Linked DNA regions of Homo sapiens: region 1 is linked to region 2. Evidence: fine-mapped expression QTL. A gene starts in region 2. The other region holds a variant in brackets. All regions are shown on one strand. Distances are from middle to middle. Region 1 has its middle 6.8 kb from the start of LINC00847. Region 2 holds the start of HEIH (hepatocellular carcinoma up-regulated EZH2-associated long non-coding RNA).

Region 1 (5,375 bases), 7.8 kb before region 2:
AATCTTAACTCTAAATATTTATTGTTCTGTACCAATTGTACTGATCTCTTATGTTGGAGATTTGCATTCATGCGTGGATGAAATGGATTTGCCATTCTTTATTAGTGGACAATAATGACTGACCACGGAATTGGGTATAAGTACAGGCTTTAAAGGCAGAGAAACCTACATTTGAAATGAACCCTGTTATACAGGAACACTATGACTCTGAAAGGCATATGAATACTTGGAGCCTCAATGTGCTTAGCTGTAAAATGGGAACAATCAGATTATCTACTTTACAGAGCTGTTGTGAGGCCTATATAAAGCCTTGCGTGGCTGAGATAGTGCTAGTAGTACCCACCAAATCCCCTCTCAGTTTCCTCTTCATGAACATAACACTACATTTGCCACCAGTTTGAGTCCATGTGACGGCTCTAGCCAATAAGCCACCATATAGATACATGTTGTAGGTGATGCAATTACAAGATAGAGGAGGGTTGTCCAATCCACAAAGGACCTTATGTGAGCAAGCGATCGGCCTTTTATTTGTAAAGCCACTGAAATTTGAGGTTTGTTTTTTTTTTTTTTTTGTGCTACGGGAGCATTGTCTAGCTTACCCTAATACATTGGACATATGATAAACAATTGATAAATTTTGGTATTGAAAGCCGGGCGCAGTGGCTCTTACCTGTAATCCCAGCACTTTGGGAGGCCGAGGCGGGCAGATCACCTGAGGTGGGTGTTCAAGACCAGCCTGACCAACATGGTGAAACCCCGTCTCTACTAAAAATACAAAAAATGAGTCGGGCATGGTGGTGGGCACCTGTAATCCCAGCTACTCGGGAAGCTGAGGCAGGAGAATTGCTTGAACCCAGGAGGTGGAGGTTGTAGTGAACCGAGATCGTGCCACTGCACTCCAGCCTGGGCAACACAGCAAGACTCCATCTAAAAAAAAAAAATTGGTATTTAAGGTGTCTGTGAACCAATGTGGAATGATGCCTTGAACATACATTATTAAGAGAGAGAAGCAAGACAGAACAGAGTGTATAGTGCGCCACATTTTGTGTAAGAAAGAAGGATAAATTAAAATGTATATATGTACTTGCTCATGTTTGCAAAAAGAAACACAGGAGAGGAAAAACCAGAAACGAATCAACTTGATGACCTATCCTTGTAGGGAGACTGGGGCAGGGTGGTGGGGATGTGCACAGGCGTGAGACTTCTCTGATCAAATGTTTTTACACAATGTTGATTTTTGAACCATTTATTCTCTATATATTCAGAAATAAAAGTAATTTATAAAGGAAAATGCCTTAAAATTGTACCTTAAGAGAAATAAATGACCAACTCTATATAAAATTGATCCAAACCAACAATAAACAAAAAGGTTAATTTGGGTAACTTGAACATATTACTCTGACTATATCTATATATCAATATTATTAGGAACTAGGAATTTTTCTGTATAAGAGGAAAAAGATAAAATATAAAAAAATAATGTAAACACTTATGTTAAATTTCAATAGCAATACAAACTCATACTATTTCATTATATATATATTTTTATTATATATATATTCATTACATATGTAAATAAAGCATCCTAGTTGTGTTCCTGAAAAAGCGTACGATGACACCCTAGTGGTAACGAACATAACTAACCCTCATATCTTGCATCTCCTGCTGTAATAAATGGTACAGGCAAGAATAATCAATGGATACTGAAACCATTACATAAACGTGGCAGGGCAATAGAATATTCCTACAGGGGCAAAGTACACCCCACAAATCATTCAGTAATTTAAAAGGAAAAAAATGTTGGATCCAATTTATACCCAGCCAGCACATCCATTTGACCCTGCCTGCCCCTGGGGACCCACTACCCTGATCCTAGGTAAAGCAGCTCCAGTGATGGCCGCAAAGTTCCAGCTTCCACCTTGTCACCTTACCTCCTATAATGACAGGCACCGCTGTCTTTGGCAAGGCCATGTCATTCCACCTGCCAGGGCAGGAGCTGCAGCAACTCCTGTGCCCAGGTCCAGCAGGAGCCCCGGGTGAACTGGCTTTCCCAGTGGCTGTGTCGAGGCAGCTAGCAACACAATCCTGAAGTACAAGTGCTTTACCACCACGTGAGCTTTGCCTTGTAGGACTCCTCTGAGGTGCAACGGAGCTACACAGCACCTCCAAAGATGTCTCACATAGCCAAGCGGCCAGCTGTGCTGTTTATCAAGCAGTGGCTAATTCAGCAGCAGACCATCTTGTAGTTTCCCCCTCAATTCATTTTTCCCCTTTCACAGCATTGCACCCCCACCCTGCAAAGCAATAGCATGTAAACTTTGCCTCAGTTGATGTTCCAGGCAAAGGTACCTTCTCATGGACATATAATAATTACTTTCTCAACAGGTCATCCCCCTGAGCATCGCTGCTGGCAAAAACCCAGTGTGAGGACCTCCTCATGGAATACCTGTAAAGTATTCTTTATAGCCAAATAAATAAATAAATAAAAGAAAAAAGTTTATTCAAACCTAAAACCTAACTTCCATTATAAGGGCTTAAAAGTAAAAGTTAAAGGACACCATCAGGAAACAATCGGGCAAGCCAGGGATGTGTGACCTTCTCTAAGACAGCTGGCCCAGATTCCTCAAGTCAATGTCGTAAATCAAAACCAAACAGAAGTTAAGGTGGGGGAGATTTTCCAGATTAGCCTCCAGATGGAATCCATAAGCCTTGATTAGCTCTCGGGGGAAACTGCATACAAACATTTAAGGTACAATTGCAAAAATTTTAAAATGACTTGGATATTAGTTGTGATTGTAGAATCATTGTTAAGTTTCCTAGGTATGATAGTGGTATTGCGGTTATACAGGAGATTTTCTTTATTCTTAGGAGATTCATATTGAAGCACTTACGGATCATGATGCCATACTGACAACTTATTTTCAAAAATGGTGTGTATCATGTGTTTGTGGGGAGACAGAGAGAGGAGAAAAACCAAATATGGTAAAACGTTAACAACCATTGAATCTAGATGAAAAGCATTTGTGGTTTCTTTTGACATTTTTCAGTGTTGAAAATT[T/A]TCATAATAGAAGGCAGACAGATAAATATCAGTAAAAAGCAGATAAAATTGAGGATATATTTGTATTTGAAGAGCTTTTTAAAGCCATGTTTTCTTTTCCTCAACCAGTTTCAAATAAGCAGCCAATACTTTATCAGGAACTAATTCATCCACCTCAGAATGGATATTCACACCCAAATTGCTGTGCTTTCAAAAGCTTTTTAACCTCTTGTTTGTTGCTAGCACTTTCCCAGTGGAAAGAATTTGATGCCATTTCCGCACACCCAAATTCCTGTTGGCAGGATAATCAGCAAGTAATACAGAGAGCTGCTTCCTTCAACAGCTGCATTCAGCACAAAACCGAGGGCCGATTATGTGGAGAAATATCCTTCAGAGGTAAGGCATCAGGTAAAGGCATCAGTGATCTTTTCCATGCATTCCAAATACTGTATTGGATCAAACTGGAGCAGCATCATTCTCTACAGCTGTGCTGGCAACAGACAGACACAAATGAACTATTTAATATGGCAAAATGCACAGCTGTTTGAGGCTTCTATTATTAGCACCAGTTCTCGACTCACTGGGAAAACTCTTCTTCAACTTGTTAATGCGACAGTTTTATTTGTTTGGACGCAGCTTTCCATTATCATTCTTCCCACCCCAAACTTCCCTTTATCCCCAAGATGTCTCCAGACAGAGGTGTTTCCAGCTGGCCCCAGTTCAGCTGATCTCCAGTCTGTCTGCCCATGAGAGTCCCAGGAGAGCATGCCGTCTAACTAAGCCGCCTGGGCTTTGCTCTGGACCCCTAAGGAGTCCCTACAGGTCAGGTCTTCCCTGCTCCATCCAGAGAGGGGCCCCTCTCATACTGCAGAATGCTCGAAGTCCACAAATGTTCATTCTCCCCTTCGTTACTAGTAGAACTCACTCAGTTAAGGCTGAGCTCACGGTAGGCAACCTCAAACTCTCAGTGGCTTATCAAAAAAGTCATTTATTTTTCTTGCAGGCTGGTGGAGGCCGCTCTGCTTCAAGCTGTGAGCCGAGTCAGGGCTGCTTCACTTGTCTCTCATCCTCTGGACCAGTGACCACCTGGGGTGGCAACAGGGCCAGAGGACGAGCAGAGACACAAGAGGCCTCCTAAGGCCTCAGCTCAGAACTAACAAACTCGCTTCTGCCCACATTCCATTGGCCAAAGCCCTGCATGAGTTGTGGAAAAGTACTCTCCACTTTGGTGAACATTAGTAAGAGAAAAGAGGGAAGGAAGAATTGCAGGCAAGTAATACCATCTACCTCGGCCTCCTATGCAGCTTGGTGTGTACCTGCACCTAAGTTCTGGCCTGTAGGATATGAGGGGAAGTGAGGTGTGCAACTCCAGGACCTGCCCCTGTAAAGACTGGGCCCTGCCTTTCCCCTGCCCATCTGCTGGGGACATGGTAGGACTGCAGCAGTTGCCTGGCCCAGAGATAGACGGCACAGCTATCCTGCTGGTCCTACCTCTAGACCGCCACATGTACCTCACTTACACTGCTTGGGTTTTGCATCTTAAAACCCCAATTAGCACACCATTCATTCATTCATTCCCCCATCAACAAGTATGTACTGAGTGTCTTTTTGCCAGGCATTGCACTAGGTTTTGGAGAGATGACAGTGAACAAAAACAAACTTGGCTGTTCTGTATCTTGGCTGTGGCAGTGGTTACACAAGCCTACACATGTGATAAAACTGCATAGAACTAAATACACACACACAGAGGAATGCCAGTCAAACTGGGAATTAAAGAATCAAAAAGTCACTGGTGACTCAACATGGCAGCAGTCCAGCTCAACCATACAGATGACAGCAGTGTGCTGAAGTATGACAAAGGAATGATTTAAAAGGAATTGAGGCAGAGCTGCCAGGCAGGCATGCTCACCTTGGACTTTGAAGCAAGAGAGACATAAATAAAGGTCTTTGTTCTGTAAGTAGAGTGTTCATATAATTTATCATCCAAACTGAGACACCTGTGAAAATAATTACACTGGAACAACTTGTGTGACTGATCAGCTGGTCACTCCATCTTTAAGTCATTGTCTTGTTGAGTCTGTTATCAGAGCCCATGGAGTGCCATGCATGGACAGCTTATTTAGGCACAACAGAGAAAAATTAAAGGGAAGGAGGAGCAAGGAAGAGTGGAAAGGATAAAGAAATGGTGAGCATTGGCAGGAAACAATGCAAGGAGAAAAGGGAACAGGAATCGGATTTTCTACTAATTTGCTGTGTGTTCCTGTGTCAGTTTATAAATTAGTGTCTATATTTACAACCGATTGGAAGAACGAACTTTTTAGATCCTCTCATCCAACAA
Region 2 (5,375 bases):
GCCCTTTGTCCTGTTTCCTCAGAAGCATGTGATCTTTGTTCTGCCTTTTGCCCTTTGAAGCATATGATCTTTGTTCCTACTCCCTGTTCGTACACTCCCTCCCCTTTTGAAATCCTTAATAAAAACCTGCTGGTTTTACGGCTCAGGTGAGCATCACGGTCCTACCAATATGTGATGTCACCCCCGGTGGCCCAGCTGTAAAATTCCGCTCTTTGTACTCTTTATTTCTCAGCCGGCCAACATTTATGGAAAATAGAAAGAACCTATGTTGAAATATTGGGGGTGGGTTCCCCCGATATCTGGCCCCTATCGGGTTCCCCCGATAGTTCTATCTAAATTTTTATCTGAAAAATAAGTTTCTCTGCTTTAAAAAAGAAACTTTGAAGACCATTTTACAGAAGAATTGGTTTGCCAAGGTGGAAAGAGAAGCTCATCAGTGACGTGACTTAGCCAAAAGCACTGGTTATACCTCTATACCTCGGAGCCGACACTGAAAGCCCCGGCCATAGTCTTTCTGCCCCAAGGAAAGCCTGGGGTGGGGGTGGGTGATATTGTCAAGAGCCAGGCCCCAGCTCCTCATACACACAGCTCATTTGCTCTCCCTCCCAACCCCCACCTTCATACTTCTTCCACACGCATACCAAAGAAAATAAGAATCTCAAGGTTGGAAAATCCCACTTTACTTCAAGTGAAGTCACTGGGTTGTCCCCATGAAATATCTCCACAATGGGTGTGCTAGACCTTTACTCTCTGTGGCACCACCAAGACCCCCTCACCCTGCCAGAGCCCTCTGAAGTGTACTCAGAATGGAGGGGCTGGAAGTGGGGCCAGTGGTCCTGGTAGTCAGCCTCCCCTTCTGACACAAGAATTATCGTGGAACAGCTTGTGTGACCGATCAACTGGTCTCTCCATCTTTAAGCCATTGTCTTGTTGACTCTGTTACTGCAGAGTTTGGGGAGGTCTCATGGCTTCTCGCATCCTATTTCCTGAGCTTCCCTGAAGCCAACTTCTGGCCACTGGTATGTGATGCGAGCACAGTGCCTCCTCCTGCTCCTCCAGGAAGCTTCTGCTGATTGAACGCAGGCCAGATGGCGAGATCCGGAGCAACCTTCTTAGATCAAGGGAAGAAAGGGGCACAAGAGGGGAGTAGGTAACAAGATAAAAGGAGCTCCCTCCCTGATGACTACAGAGCCATCGTGGCAGCCCTGGGCCTCCATTTCAGACGTTCATCTTGCCTAAGCCACCACCATCAGGGTCTCAGTCAGTCATCATTCTCATTTACTCGGGTGGCTGGGTGAGGGCGGAATACTACCTTCCAGCTGTCTGAGATTAAGCCTAAGCCACCACCATCAGGGTCTCAGTCAGTCATCATTCTCATTTACTCGGGTGGCTGGGCGAGGGCGGAATACTACCTTCCAGCTGTCTGAGATTAAGCAGAACAGCAGCTAAAGCAGTAACAGCAGGTCTCCTTCAGCAGCTTGCCACAGGGAAGAGGGTCCCGCGTGAACCGAACTCAACTTCCACCTGCGCAGAGGTAGCTACCATTTGCGTAGAGGTAGCTGGGTCTTTAAGGTTAGAGGGAAGGCGCAGGGAGGGAGAGACGGCGGGTGGGGGTTGAACAAAGTGGAGATTCACAAAAGCAGACTAGGGCGGGCGACGTGATCAGATGACCTGTGCGGGCGGCAGCCTCCTGCCCTCCTCCCCTTCGTGCGCCGGCTGGAGCGAAGAGTTCTTTTGACAGCCGTGAGCTTCCCCGCCAGGAACTTACTGGGGCTGCATCACCCTAGAAACGTGGCTTTGGGCTGTGGAAACGCTGCCTCTGTGGAAGTCTCTCCTCGCGGGGGTGGACGGGTCGCTGCGCGCCCAGCGTTCTTCTGCGGTTCTCACAGCCCGCCGCCGCCGCCGCCTCGGGGACCTTTGCGGGGAGGCCTCAGGTCAGCGCCGCCCTTGCGATGGCGGGAGAGCAGAGCGGCCCCAGGGCCTCTGAGCTCCGGCCCCGGCACGTCCCGCCCTCTCCTCCGCTTGCGGGAGCCGGGGCGCCTCGGAGGGAAACCTTCCGGACACAGGCCGGGAGAAGAGGGGCCGTGGCGCCATCGCGCAGCTTCCTGGTTTCGGCCATGTTTTTTTTTTTTTGAGACGGAGTTTCGCTCTTTTTGCCCAGGCTGGAGGGCAATGGCGCCGTCTCGGCTCCCTGCAGCCGCCGCCTCCCGGGTTGAAGGGACTCTCCGGCCTCAGGCCGCGGTGTTCTTGTAAATTAGAACCGGCCTATGCGCCAAGCGCGGGTCTCGCGGCTGCGGAGAGAGGCCCAGCAGGGGGCGGGGACGCCGGGAGGCGGGGCCTGGCCGAGCTGCGCACACCCGGGTGGTTCTGGCTACGGGTACCCGGACCTGCCCAACGACCGTTCTCCATTCCCGACCTCCGCACCCTACCCGGTCCGCAGGGCACCTTCCTCCTCTCTCTCAGGCACGTCCTCGACCTCAGTTGCCACGTGCACATGCTGGTGCCTTCCAGGTCGGTCTTTCTCCACCAGACTCCACCTGGAACTTTCTTCCTTTTCGTCCTGTGCTGGCCTAACCCCTGCTCGGCCTCGGCCCTCAGCTGCCGGCTCTAACAAAGCCTCTGTCTTTCCCAGACCCCTGTGACCAGGTCAGGCTCTGCTCCCTGCGTTCCTCTCTCCTTGCTTCCCTCCTCCTCCCCTCCCCAGAATCGCTTGAACCTGGGAGGCAGACGTTGCAGTGAGCTGAGATCGCACCATTGCACTCCAGCCTGGGTGACAAGAGCGAGACTCCATCTCAAAACAAAAAACAAAAAACACAACTCTTGCTGGCTCCTTGATTTTAGCCCAGTGAGATTCACTTCTAATTTCTTTTTTTCTTTGAGACAGTCTGTTCTGTCACCCAGGCTGGAGTGCAGTGGCGTAATCATGGCTCACTGCAGCCTCAACCTTCCTGGACTCAAGTGAACCTTCCACCTCAGCCTCCCAGGTAGCCGGGACTACAGGGGTGCACCAGCATGCCTGGCTAATTTTTGCATTTTTTGTAGAGATGGGGTTTCACTATGTTGCCCAGGCTGGTCTGAAACTCCTGTGCCCCAGCAGTCCTCCTGCCTTGGTCTCCCAAAGTTCTGAGATTACAGGCATGAGCCACTGCGCCTGGGCTTCCATTTCTGATTTCCAAAACTCTAGGATAATAAATTTACATTGTTTTAAGCCACCAAATTGTAGTAATCTGTTACAGCAGCAATAAGAAATGAATACAGCCATGCTTGATAATTCCTTTATCAAAAGCTACCTATTGGTGTTAGGAAGTATTGTTTTAAATTCTAAGACAGTGTTTTCACTTTCTATCTTGTGCACTGACTACCTCATGACCCCTTAGGTACCAGTCAGGACTGGTAGACTTTAATGTGGAGAACTTCTGAAACAGCAGTTCTCAAAATGTTACCTCCAGACACACAGAATCTGCATCACCCAGGAACTTGTAACCATGCAAATTCTCAGCCACCCAGACTTCCTGCATCAGAAACTCTGGGGCCCAGCAGCCTGTGTTTTAACAAAGCCCTTCAGGTGATTCTGACACTTGCTCAAGTTTGAGAACCGCTGTTCTAGGAGCTGGTCCTGCAGGGAAAGGGTGGCCTCTCAGTTCAGGTTCCAGTGTGGCTGGGGGTGGGGGTCAAGGTGAGGGTTTGGTTGTTGTGTCTGACAGTCAGCCAGGCTTGAGCACACGGACTGTTTACAAGGCTGCACTTTCCATGTTCTGGTCAGCAGTCTCCTGGTTCATTCCGTTACGAATGGACTGTCACCCCAAAATTAATGTTGAAATCTATTTCTCTATTTGGAGGTGGGGCCTTTGGGAGGTAATTAGGTCATGAGAGTGGAGCCCTCATGAATGGAATGACTGCCTAAGAGAACAGAGATGGCTCACACCTGTAATCCCAGCACTTTGGGAGGCTGAGGTGGGCGGATCACGAGGTCAAGAGATCGAGACCATCCTGGCTAACACGGTGAAACCCCATCTCCACTAAAATACAAAAAATTAACCAGGTGTGGCAGCGGGTGCCTGTAGTCCCAGCTACTCAGGAGGCTGAGGCAGGAGAATGGTGTAAACCTGGGAGGCAGAGCTTTCAGTGAGCTGAGACTGCGCCACTGCACTCCAGCCTGGGCGATACGGTGAAACTCTGTCTCAAAAAAAAAAAAAAAAAAAGAGAACAGAGAGCTAGCTTGCTGATTTTCTGCCATATGAGGATACAGTAAGAGGGCAGCCATCTGCAACTTGTAAGATGACCCTCACCATAACGTGACCATGCTGGCACCACGATCTCAGACTTCTAACCCCCAGAACTGAGAAATAAATTTCTCCACCACTCTATGACACGGTATTTTTTTTTTTTTTTTGAGATGGAGTCTCGCTCTATTGCCCAGGCTGGAGCGCAGTGGCACGATCTCGGCTCACTGCAACCTCTGCCTCCCGGGTTCAAGCGATTCTCCTGCCTCAGCCTCCTGAGTAGCTGGGATTACAGGTATGCGCCACCACACCTGGCTAAGTTTTGTATTTTTAATAGAGATGGGGTTTCACCGTGTTAGCCAGGATGGTCTCGATCTCCTGACCTCATGATCCGCCCGCCTCGGCCTCCCAAAGTGCTGGGATTACAGGCGTGAGCCACTGCGCCCAGCTGGCATGGTATTTGTTATAGCAACCCAAGCTAAGACACTCCATGTTATGGACTGAATGCTCGTCTGCCCCCAAAGTTTCTATGCTGAGATCCTAACCCCTTTGTGATGGTAACAGGAAGTGGGAACTTTGGGAAGTAACTAATTAGGCCATGATGGTAGGGCCCTCATGAGTGGGATTAGTGGCTGTCTTAGTCCATTTTGTGCTGCTATAATAGAATACCCGAGACTGGGTAATTTATATAGAACAGATGTTTGTTCTCTCACAGCTGTTGCATTAGGGATAGATGGAAAGACTTATTTATGTATTGACTGACTGATTGATGGGGCCTTGTTCTGTTGCCTAGGCTGGAGTATAGTGGCATGATCATAGATCACTGCAGCCTCAAACTCCTGGGCTCAAGCGATCCTCCCACCTCAGCCTCCATATAGCTGGTGGGGACCAAGTTTCTAACACATGAATGTTGGGAGACACATTCAGACCATCGCAGTGGCCTTATAAAAAGAGACACAAGAGCTTGCTCTCTGCCATGTGAGAATACCACAAGAAGACTGTCCTCAGCAAATCAGAAAGCGGGTGGACCCTCATCAGACACCAGATGTGCCTGCACCTTGATCTTGGACTTGCCAGCCTTCAGAACAGTAAGAAAGAAATGTGTGTTGTTTAAGCCACCCAGTCTATGGTAACTTGCTATAGCAGCCCACT

Evidence for each region. PIP is the estimated chance that this variant, and not a neighbour inherited with it, causes the effect.
Region 1: its variant is the best candidate, but not a certain one, in a credible set for the expression of HEIH in whole blood (TOPMed, PIP 0.55).

What each region holds. Positions count from the first base shown.
Region 1 is chr5:180,821,503-180,826,877 of GRCh38, forward strand. It overlaps a transcript of ZFP62 not described here. Among named protein-coding and RNA genes, the nearest start is that of LINC00847, 6.8 kb to the right of the region's middle. RefSeq lists a silencer at 3,167-3,461. The variant T/A (reference allele first, on the strand shown) is at 3,059.
Region 2 is chr5:180,829,296-180,834,670 of GRCh38, forward strand. HEIH (hepatocellular carcinoma up-regulated EZH2-associated long non-coding RNA) reads right to left here and starts at 2,323. Exons shown (of 1, transcript NR_045680.1): 1 at 659-2,323. LINC00847 (long intergenic non-protein coding RNA 847) reads left to right here and starts at 1,662. Exons shown (of 3, transcript NR_045679.1): 1 at 1,662-1,934; 2 at 3,378-3,565; 3 at 5,017-5,375. It also overlaps a transcript of ZFP62 not described here. RefSeq lists silencers at 1,888-1,937, 2,298-2,427, 2,868-3,037.